3 linked regions of the Homo sapiens genome follow. The protein of the gene in region 1 interacts with the protein of each later gene in a pairwise test. Each region holds a gene or a part of one and is shown in the gene's direction. Other genes may lie near its edges.

Evidence for each region.
Region 2: the proteins of ZSCAN1 (region 1) and RFC1 interact in a two-hybrid assay, tested with the Homo sapiens proteins (one large-scale study listed by BioGRID and IntAct).
Region 3: the proteins of ZSCAN1 (region 1) and CNOT6L interact in a two-hybrid assay, tested with the Homo sapiens proteins (one large-scale study listed by BioGRID and IntAct).

What each region holds. Positions count from the first base shown.
Region 1 is NC_000019.10:58,040,397-58,044,051, forward strand, and holds part of ZSCAN1 (zinc finger and SCAN domain-containing protein 1), read left to right. Parts: intron 1-53; coding exon 54-148; intron 149-3,655. UniProt on the Homo sapiens protein: May be involved in transcriptional regulation.
Region 2 is NC_000004.12:39,300,250-39,303,904, reverse strand, and holds part of RFC1 (replication factor C subunit 1), read left to right. Parts: intron 1-753; coding exon 754-845; intron 846-1,030; coding exon 1,031-1,168; intron 1,169-1,309; coding exon 1,310-1,405; intron 1,406-1,528; coding exon 1,529-1,627; intron 1,628-3,490; coding exon 3,491-3,645; intron 3,646-3,655. UniProt on the Homo sapiens protein: Subunit of the replication factor C (RFC) complex which acts during elongation of primed DNA templates by DNA polymerases delta and epsilon, and is necessary for ATP-dependent loading of proliferating cell nuclear antigen (PCNA) onto primed DNA.
Region 3 is NC_000004.12:77,712,767-77,715,662, reverse strand, and holds the end of CNOT6L (CCR4-NOT transcription complex subunit 6-like), read left to right. Parts: 3' UTR 1-2,276; downstream 2,277-2,896. UniProt on the Homo sapiens protein: Has 3'-5' poly(A) exoribonuclease activity for synthetic poly(A) RNA substrate.

The sequences.
Region 1 (3,655 bases):
TTGGGGGCTCTGGGAAGAACAGGCCCCTCTCACGATCCCTTTCTCCCGCACAGTTCTGGTATCTCTGGACTCGGTCGAACCCCAGGACTGGAGTTTCGGTGAGGAGGAAGATGGGAAGAGTCCAAGGTCCCAGAAAGAACCATCGCAGGTGAGCCCGGGGCCCCCAGCTCCGTGCTCCTGCACCCCAGGGCATGCGTGCCGCTTCTGGGACGGCCTCAAGGATGCCCCATCCAAGGACTGTGTGAGGTTGTCCCCAGCGCTCCCAGGAAGCCCGGCCTCCAAACTCCCCGCCTGCCCCACAGATTCCCCAAGCTTCCTGGGGCTCAGTGCTGGGCGAGGGCAGTCAGTGCAGCTGTGTGTTTGCTGTGTGCCTCTGGGCCTCACCCCAGCCCCTCCTGTCCTTTCCCAGCCTCGCAGTTAAGACCCATCCTCCTGTGTCACCCGCACCAGATGCTGCGTGTGTTGAGAAAGTCCTGCTGCCCCGATCATCTTCCCTCAGTGAACCCAGGATTCTGGGCGGGCCCAGAAGGAAATGCTGAGGGCTCCCCTGCAGCTAGACCTGCTGTTGCGCAGGCCTCAAGGCGACGGGAGGGGCCCGGCTCGGTTGGGAGCCAAGCGGATCTCTGTGTGGCTGGAGAGATTAAAATCAGGGGTGGGGACACGCAGACACATGAGAGAAATCCAGGGGTAATGGGTAAATCACAAAAGAACAAAAGTAAGAACTGCTAAGTGAGTAGCATGTGTTCGTATGATCAGGGCTACTGAGTTTGACCACTTTCTGCCTCTGGATCTTGGTATTGGAGCCGCCAAGGGAAACACAGCACGGTCGAACAATGAATGGAGCAAGGTTTTGCTCACAGACCAGAGACCGGGCCAGAGCACCATCTGCCCATGTGGCTGTCAGGCCGGGGCCAGCAGGTCCCTCCTAGAGGGGTCCTGACCTAACAGTGGGGCTGTCTAGGTGCCACGTGAAGCACACGCCTGAGCAGAACAAAGGGGCACACATTGGGAAACAGAGACCTCCACACGAGGCACTACACCCAGCACAAACTGGGGGGACCCCTTATCTCTTGGTAAGGAGATGTTCTAGGCCCAGGACCCACTCTCAGGCAGCCAAGTAACAGGCTGAAAGACTGCACATGTGTGTCTCCCACTGGCTTAGTCCGTTCTGGGTGCTGTAACAAAATACGGCTGGGTGTGGTGGCTCATCCCGGTAATCCCAGCACTTTGAGTGAGGCCTCACGGGAGGCTGAGGTGGGAGGACCACTTGGTCCCAGGAGTTCAAGAGCAGCCTGGGCAACATGGCAAGACCCCATGTCTTAAAAAAAAATGAGCCAGGTGTAGGGGTGTGCACCTGTAGTCTTAGCAACTCTGGAGGCTGAGGTAGGAGGATCACTTGAGCCCAGGAGTTCAAGGCTGTAGTAAGCTATGATCATGTTTCTACACTCCAGCCTGGATGACAGAGTGAGACCCTAACTCAAAAAACATCAACAGCCGGGCACAGTGGCTCACGCATGTAATCCCAGCACTTTGGGAGGCTGAGGCAGGCGGATCACAAGTTCAGGAGTTCAAGGAAGAAGGAAGTAACTTGTGGAATGCTGAGAAAGGTAAAAACACCTTCAAATAAGGAAGAGGAACAGGCTATGACCTAATGCTTGCTTGGACCAGTATAGGCACACCAGGGCAAATATTTAGGCTAAATTGTGGGAGCTAAGAACATAAAGTACATTGATTTTTTTTATTATGGCTAGCAGATATATAAGAATGTTAGCACAGGTCTTTGAATAAATTTTGCTTCTAAGAGAAGTTACTATTTATTCCTAATTAGATGGGGAGGAAAGTCTTTGAAGAGGAACTTCTACTTTACTTTTTTTTTTTTTTAATGGAGTCTTGCTCTGTAGCCCAGGCTGGAGTGCAGTGGCGCGATCTCGGCTCACTGCAAGCTCTGCCTCCCGGGTTCACGCCATTCTCCTGCCTCAGCCTCCGGAGTAGCTGGGACTACAGGCGCCCGCCACCTCCCCGGCTAATTTTTTTTGTATTTTTAGTAGAGACGGGGTTTCACCGTGTTCACCAGGATGGTCTCGATCTCCTGACCTCGTGATCCACCCGCCTCGGCCTCCTGAAGTGCGTGAGCCATCGCGCCCGGCCCTAAAATAGATTTAAAGATCATCATGAGAGCCCCTCTCCTGCACCAAAACAAAGTTTCGTGGGCCGTGGTTTCTGTTTCTGCATCTAACGGAGGCATCTAACCTGGGTAGACCACAGTTGTTGGCCACGGGCTTCCTCAGCCGCTGCCGGCAGATGTGCTTATCTGACTCCCTCTCCCATCCCAGACGCCACGTGGAAACCACAGCCGCGCTCACAGGCCATCCCCTCACCACACGGCAACTCCAAGGACTCTCTTTTTGCGGGGGTCGTAGGTGGGGAAGGCTGCTGAGGTCCTCCCACCCCTCTCCCACCAGGGCCGCTGTGGCTGAGAGGATCCTCGTTGGCGCTGGTTTAGGCTGTGGGGCTCAGCCACAGCAGGGTGCCCCAACGTCCCTGAGCGAGCTGCACTTGTGGAGGGAGAGGCCTTAGGCCTGAGGCCTGGCGCCCGCGTGGAGAGACGGCAGCTCCGGGATCGGGGCGCTGGTGAGCGCGGCCCCAGGCATTGCCGCTGCCAGGGTGCTAACACTGCCTGAGGCACCTCTGCTTTTGAAGTCGCCGGGGATTAGCGGGAGCGTAGGTGAGGGACAGGTGGAGCTGCTCTGCGCGGGGCAGCCCGGCTCGCCAGGAGGCGCTGTGGAGTGGGCACGACTGGCGATCGCTGAGCGCATACAACCGCCTACCATCGGAAGCCTTTTGAGAAATGCTTCCTTAGGCGGTTTCGTCACCGTGCATACATCGCAGAGGGCACTCACACACCTACACGCACAGCCCATGGCTCCTAGGCTACAGACCTGCACAGCACGGGGCTGCACTGAATACTGTGGGCAACGGTAACACAATGTTGTTTGTGGATTTAAACATAGAAAAGGTACAGTAAAAATACAAAATAGAAGATAAAAAACAGTACACTTGTATAAAGCACTTGCCAGGAAGGGAGCTTGTGAGACTGGAAGTTGCTCTGGGTGAGTCTGAGTGGTGAGTGAATGTGAAGGCCTGGGAGGTTATTGTGCTGTGGACTTCATAAACATGGTGCACTTAGGCTACTAAATTGGCAACTATATTTCCTTCTTCAATATAATTTATCTTACTGTAAGTTTTTGCTTTACATTTTTTTTTTCTTTCTTAGACTGACTCTCACTCTGTCACCCAGGCTGGAGTGCAGTGGCACGATCATGGCTCACCGCAACCTCAACCTTCTGGGCTCATGCGATCTTCCTACCTGAGTCTTCTGAGTAGCTGGGAACACAGGCACACATTACCGCACCGGCTAATTTTTATATGTTTTAAAATTTTTTTAGTTTTTGTGTAGATGGGGTTTCACTATGTTGCCCAGGCTGGTCTCAAACTCCTAGGCTCAAGCGATCCTCCCTCCTCAGCCACCCAAAGTGCTGGAATTACAGGCGTGAGCCACTGTGCCTGGCGTAAAAAACTTTCTGACTCTTGGGGCCGGGCGCGGTGGCTCACGCCTGTAATCCCAGCACTTTGGGAGGCCGCGGCGGGCGGATCA
Region 2 (3,655 bases), on another chromosome or scaffold:
CTTGGAAGCATCCTATATATTTCATTAATGGTGATTAAGTAAAGTGTGTGATACAAGTGTAGAATGGAGTATTAAATTGCCTTAAAAAATGAAGTGTTCTGTATCTGTAAGATAAAGAATGAATCACCAAAATACATAAAATGACAAAACTGGCTGGGCATGTTGGCTCACGCCTGTAATCCCAGCACTTTGGGAGGCTGAGGCGGACAGATCACCTGAGGTCAGGAGTTTGAGACCAGCCTGGTCAACATGGTGAAACACCGTCTCTACTAAAAATACAAAAATTAGCTGGGTGTGGTGGCGTGCGCCTGTAATCTCAGCTACTTGGGAGGCTGAGGCAAAAGAATTGCTTGAACCCGGGAGGCGGAGGTTGCAGTGAGCCAATATCGTGCCATTGCACTCCAGCTTGGGCAACGAGTGAAACTCTGTCTCAAAAAAAAAAAAATTCAAAACTCAGTTGTATATTTTTATGCACATATGTGTACAATATCTCTTAAAGGACATATAAGAGACTGTTGTTTGCCTCTGGGAAGGGAATTGGGGTCTGCAGGGGAAGGGGTGGCAGGGAGAGTTTCTCTTCTCTGCATATTCTTTTTTTTTTTTTTTCTTTAACAACACTCTGTAGTCCAGTGCTGCATATTCTTGTAGCTTTTGAAGTTTAATATCTGTTACATAATTTTCTACAGAGCAGCAGTTTTTGAGCAATTGTTATTTTGTTTTTGTCTCATCCCATTGCTCCTCAACCTGGGTCAGATGGAGCAGCCTCTTCAGTAAGCACGAAACATGCTCTCATCATGGATGAAGTAGATGGCATGGCAGGCAATGAGGATAGGGGAGGAATTCAGGTAATTCAAGTGCTGTATTTTTGCAGTTTCACTGTTGATAATTTAGATTGTTAGAACATTGTCATTCTCTCATACTTAGGGCAGTTAAGGCATGTTGCTGAGGAGATTTTTAGAACCTAAAATAGCTTGTGTGGTATTTGTCATTTTTAAAATAATTATTTTTGTGTTGCAAACTTGCCTTTCAGGAATTAATTGGCCTGATAAAACATACTAAAATTCCCATTATTTGTATGTGCAATGATAGAAATCATCCCAAGATTCGCTCTCTGGTTCATTATTGTTTTGATCTTCGTTTTCAAAGACCTCGGGTTGAACAGATTAAGGTATGATGATTGAAATTTTTTTTCCATCACACTAGCCTATTTATTTAAGGGTCAATTTTTAAAAGTACCTGATAAATATTTTTAAAATACCTGATTATATGAGTTAAAAATCATTGAGGACTCCTCCCTTGTCAATTTCAGGGTGCTATGATGTCTATTGCATTTAAAGAAGGTTTAAAGATTCCCCCTCCAGCTATGAATGAAATAATTTTGGGAGCCAATCAAGATATCAGACAGGTAAATTAAATATATATCATGTAACAGTTGTTGATTATTTTTAACTAATGCTTTCAACCTTGTAGGGATGGGGAGCAACAGGATTTTCCTATCTTGACGTTGTCTTATTTGTGATTCTTTTAGGTTTTACATAATCTGAGTATGTGGTGTGCACGAAGTAAAGCATTAACCTATGACCAGGCCAAAGCTGATTCTCACAGAGCCAAAAAGGATATCAAAATGGTAAAATAAATGTCCATGTCTTAGTTACTTTCCTAAGCCAAAACACTTCTTGTTCTGTAGGTAGCTTGATAGAAGTAGTTATTATAGTTCCTTGGTATGCCTGTGGAATCCAGGGATATATAGTAGGAAGTATAGACAGCTGCTGAAAGTGTTTCTAATTCAAATGATTTTTTTCTCAAAGATTGTCAATGTCAATTATAAATTTTGAGAAAGGGATAAATTTTAAATTATACTTATGCTTCAACAATTATAAAATGGCTTTTCCAGAGTTCTTTATGTTTGGCTTTCGTGTTTGGAATGGTTTTGCACTGTTCAGAATAATCCATGTCAAATGGTTTAGTTTAATGACCTCTCTGAAACTAGAGGTATGTATCAGTTTCCTCTGTGTTGTATTTTACCTAGTTGCTAATCAGAATTTATAGTTAGAGCAATGATTAAGCAGGTTCTAAAAAAGTTAATACACTTTCTTATTTATTTAAATTTTCAAAATTTTTGGTAGAGACAGGGTCTCGCTATGTTTCCCCGACTGGTCTTGAATTCCTGGCCTCAAGTGATCCTCCTGCTGTGGCCCCCAAGGTGCCGGGATTATAGGTGTGAGCCACCACGTCTGGCCTATACGCTTTATTTTTTAGAGCAGTTGAGGCTCAGGAGTTTGAGACCAGCCTGGCCAACATGGTGATCCATGCCTGGCCTATGGATTAAAAATGGAGTGGAAGGTACAGAGAGTTCTCACATACTTCATGTCCCCCTCACACGCACAGCCTCTCCCACTGCCAACATCCCCCACCACAGTGGTATATCTGTTACAATCGATGAACCTACAGTGATACCTCATTATCACCCAGAGTCCGTAGTTGACATTAGCATTCCCTCTTGGTGTTGTACGTTGTGTGGTTTTGACAAATGACATGTATTCACCATTGTAGTATCATACAGAATAGTTTCACTGTCCTGAACATCCTCTGTGCTCTACCTGTTCATTCTTCCTTTCCGCTTTCCTCCCTACAACCCCTGGCAGCCACTGATCCTTTCACTGTGTCCATAGTTTTGCCTTTTCCAGAATGTGGTATAGTTGGAATCATGTAGTATGTGGACTTTTCCAGTTGGCTTTTTTCACGTAGTAATGGCATATAAGGTTCTTCCATAACTTTTTTGTTTTTGTTTTTGTTTTTTTTGGTTTTTTTTTTTTCGGAGTCTTGCTTTGTCACCCAGGCTGGAGTACAGTGGTGTGATCTTGGCACACTGTAGCCTCTGCCTCCCGGGTTCATGTGATTCTCTTGCCTCAGGCTTCTGAGTAGCTCGGGTTACAGGCACCTGCCACCACACCTGGCCAATTTTTTATTTTTAGTAGAGACGAGGTTTTACTATGTTGGCCAGGCTGGTCTCGAACTCCTGACCTCAAGTGATCCGCCCACCTCAGCCTCCCAAAGTGCTCGGATTACAGGGGTGAGCCACCATGCCCTGCCCCCCCATGTCTTTTCATGGCTTGATAGCTCACTTCTTTTTAATGTTGAATAATATTACATTGTGTGAATGTACCACAGTTAAATTGTTTATTTACCTACTAAAAGGACATCTTGGTTGCTTACAACTTTTGGTAATTATAAATAAAACTGCTTGTAAACATCCTGTGCAGATTTTTGTGTGAACATAGTTTCATTTGGGTGAATACCAAGAAGCGTGGTTGCTGGATCGCGTGGTAAGAGTATGTTTAATTTTGTAAGAAACTACCAAACGGTACAGTTTTGCATTCCCACCAGCAATGAATGGAATTCCTCTTGTTCCATATCCTCGTTAGCATTTGGTGATGTTACCGTTTTGAATTTTGGCCATTCTAATAGGTGTGTCCCTCTCTTTTTTCAGGGCCCATTTGATGTTGCCCGGAAAGTGTTTGCAGCTGGAGAGGAGACTGCTCACATGTCACTTGTGGACAAGTCAGATCTCTTTTTTCATGATTATTCAATAGCACCCCTCTTCGTCCAGGAAAATTACATACACGTGAAGCCTGTAGCAGCAGGGTGAGTGTCC
Region 3 (2,896 bases), on another chromosome or scaffold:
GCATGCATATTTCTTGTTTTAACCAAATACCTTTTTTATGTAAATGTCTCTATTAAACCCCAGGTCCTACACCAGGAAATAGGGTGATAACCAGGAAAATACCAAGCTTTAACCCAGTTGGCAGTTCCTTGTGGCATACATTTGGTTAGACTTGGGTTTTTCCTGGAACCAAAGGAAAATAAGCATGTTGAGTTCTTCGTTCAACAGACATGACATTGAAGTAATAGAATATTTTTTAAGTAAAATAGTTTTCACTTTCAAAGCCTATGACATAAGGACATTTGTGCTTATTAATTGTTAATTTTTTTTTATGGTACATTGTATAAACTGAGTAGCATTGAACTGCATTTTAGAAGTATGTCATCAGAAACAAATCACATTATGGAAAGGATATACAAATGCCAAGTGATATGACTCTTTTGGCATGGTGGTAGCATGGTCCATTCAGCTTTCAGAATCTTTCGGAGGCTCTAGTTTGGTGCCTAGTACTAGTTATTTTTGTTAGAACAATCTCTCAAAATTTAGATAATTTTCCAGTTGTATGTCTGTCACTTTTAACTCTAAAGCGTAAGAATCATGGTAACCCTCTCAGAAGTGGTCCTTTCTTGCTCATTTCAGTTTCGTATTAACTTCAAATCACTGATGTATTGTCTTTCAAGCTATCAATTGTTATATGTACCAATTTAATTTAGTTTGTAGTTATCTGAAGTCACAAAATTGGTTCAGCATTGATGTCAAACAATGGCTTTGCTTCTTACCAAACAGACTTAGTATCCTGCTGCTTGTTTCAATCTTGATGCAGTAAGTGATGCAGTATCTGGGTCTGTATTTACTTAGAAACTGTACTGTCCTTTCTCTGTGCTTAACTTGCTAAAAATATATTCCCTTACCTGTGAAATTCCTGAGCGGTGCTCTGCCAACTTTTCAAGGGGAGGGATTTGGATGGCTGTGTTACTGCACACTGGATCTGGAATTGTTCAGGGTTATGAGTGACAAATTTCTTAAACACCAGCAGCACTGAGATGTGCACTATGGGCATTCGTACAGTTGTTGTCCAAATGCAAACAACTTTTTCATCTTGGAGAAGCTGAGATACAGAGTTCAATAGAACTACTTGGAATATTTTGAGAAGGTTGAATGTTTCATCTTTGGCTTTGTTGTCTCTGGAGTGGGGAAGTATGGAGGGCTTTTTTTTTTTTTTTTTTTTTTTTTTTTTTTTTTTTTAAAGAGAGTGTGTATGTACTTTTTCTCTCTATAAGGGCCAGGGTGTTGGTCAAATTCACCATCGATTAATTTATATCTTCTGTTGTGATTTTTTTCAACTATATAACAAGTGCCAACTAATTGTCCATGGGACAATCTACTTTTCCACTCAATTTATCGTTTTGAGTAGGGAAAGGTTCATTTATTTTCATTACCTGGCATTAAGTTAAAGAATTCATTATTTTGCATACATTTGAGTCATTCTGTGACCTATAAAGTGTTTTTGTAACTATCTAATTCTAATGGTTGCAAAGCAAAGCACATGACTGTAAAACCAAGCAAGGTGTTTTAGTAACTTTTTCCCTGAATACTTGGTAGTTTCCATTGATACTATTCCAAAACAAATTCTGCTGTTTTAGGTTGTATATTTACTTTGCTTTTGTTCTAAGAAAAAGCCAAGGACTAAATCAACTTGTTTTTGTGTTTCAGTAATCAGTTTAAAATCTAAGATTTTTTTTTAAATTAGACTATTTAATGAAGTGCCATGTAATTGTAGCTTGCTAGTGTTTAATGTTTAATAGACTGGTTCTGTAGGTGTTTTAACCATTTAACACTCTCTGCCATCCCTGGAGAAAGTGGTTCTACTCTTACTGAACACATTCTCTCTGACAAAATCACCAGCTGCTTTATTTTTCTATTTATTACAGTTAAACAGTTGATGAGGTCTGAATCTTGACCAAAACTGCTCAGCTGAGATGTTTTTCACAATAGACACTGTACAAAGTGTGCGTGCAAAAGGACACGGTTGGTAGTATTTTTTCATTAATGTGAACATTGACTAAAAAAAAGCAGTCCTGCCTTTTAAATCTTGTGGCAGCTCAGAAGGGAGGTGCTTAAGAACCTTAACTACTATGTCAGATAACAAAATATTTTTTTCCATTTTGGAGATTGGTTACTGCTCACACATGATGTATAGGGCTAAATATATGCTTGTTTCCTTGCACCTGTGTACTTCCCCTCTCTCCCTCCCTTTCCTTCCCCTGTAGGCAATAAATGGCCATTTTGCAACTGCATACCTTTGTCTTGGTTTTTGACTCTTTATTTGTGCAGTATAAACCTCTGCTTTTAGGTTGATACGTCTCTTCTAAAGTGAAGTAGGGAGCCAAGATAATTCAGGGCAAAATACATAATTACAAATTCATGCTACATTTTTTTTTCTGGTGAAAACTACATTACTAAGTACATTGTTTAAAAAAAATTCTGAAGCTAGTTATATGACTTGCTTTGCCCGAAGAAACCAGTGCAAAGGGATATATGTCACTTCTGAGTGGAACTTTAAGGGCCAGTCTTTAATTTGCCATATTTCCTTTTCTTGCCTGTGTGATCATAGAAGTATATGTTGAGATGAAACCTCTCATTCCAGATCCTTAAGTGACTTTGTTGAAGAGAACTCCCCTGCTGTCCTTTGGGCATGTAGCGTAATAAACAACTGCTAAATCTCAGTGTGTTAATACAATAAAGTTGTGTTATTAGGGCTTAATTTAGTTGATCCTGACTGACAGACAACCACCAGACAGATTTGCTGAGTTATCAATATTGAAGAAACTCAACAGCTGGACCTGCTAAGATCTCAAGTAAATTCATTCAACAAACATTCAGGTATCTTCTGTGAACAAGGTGCTGTGGGCATATT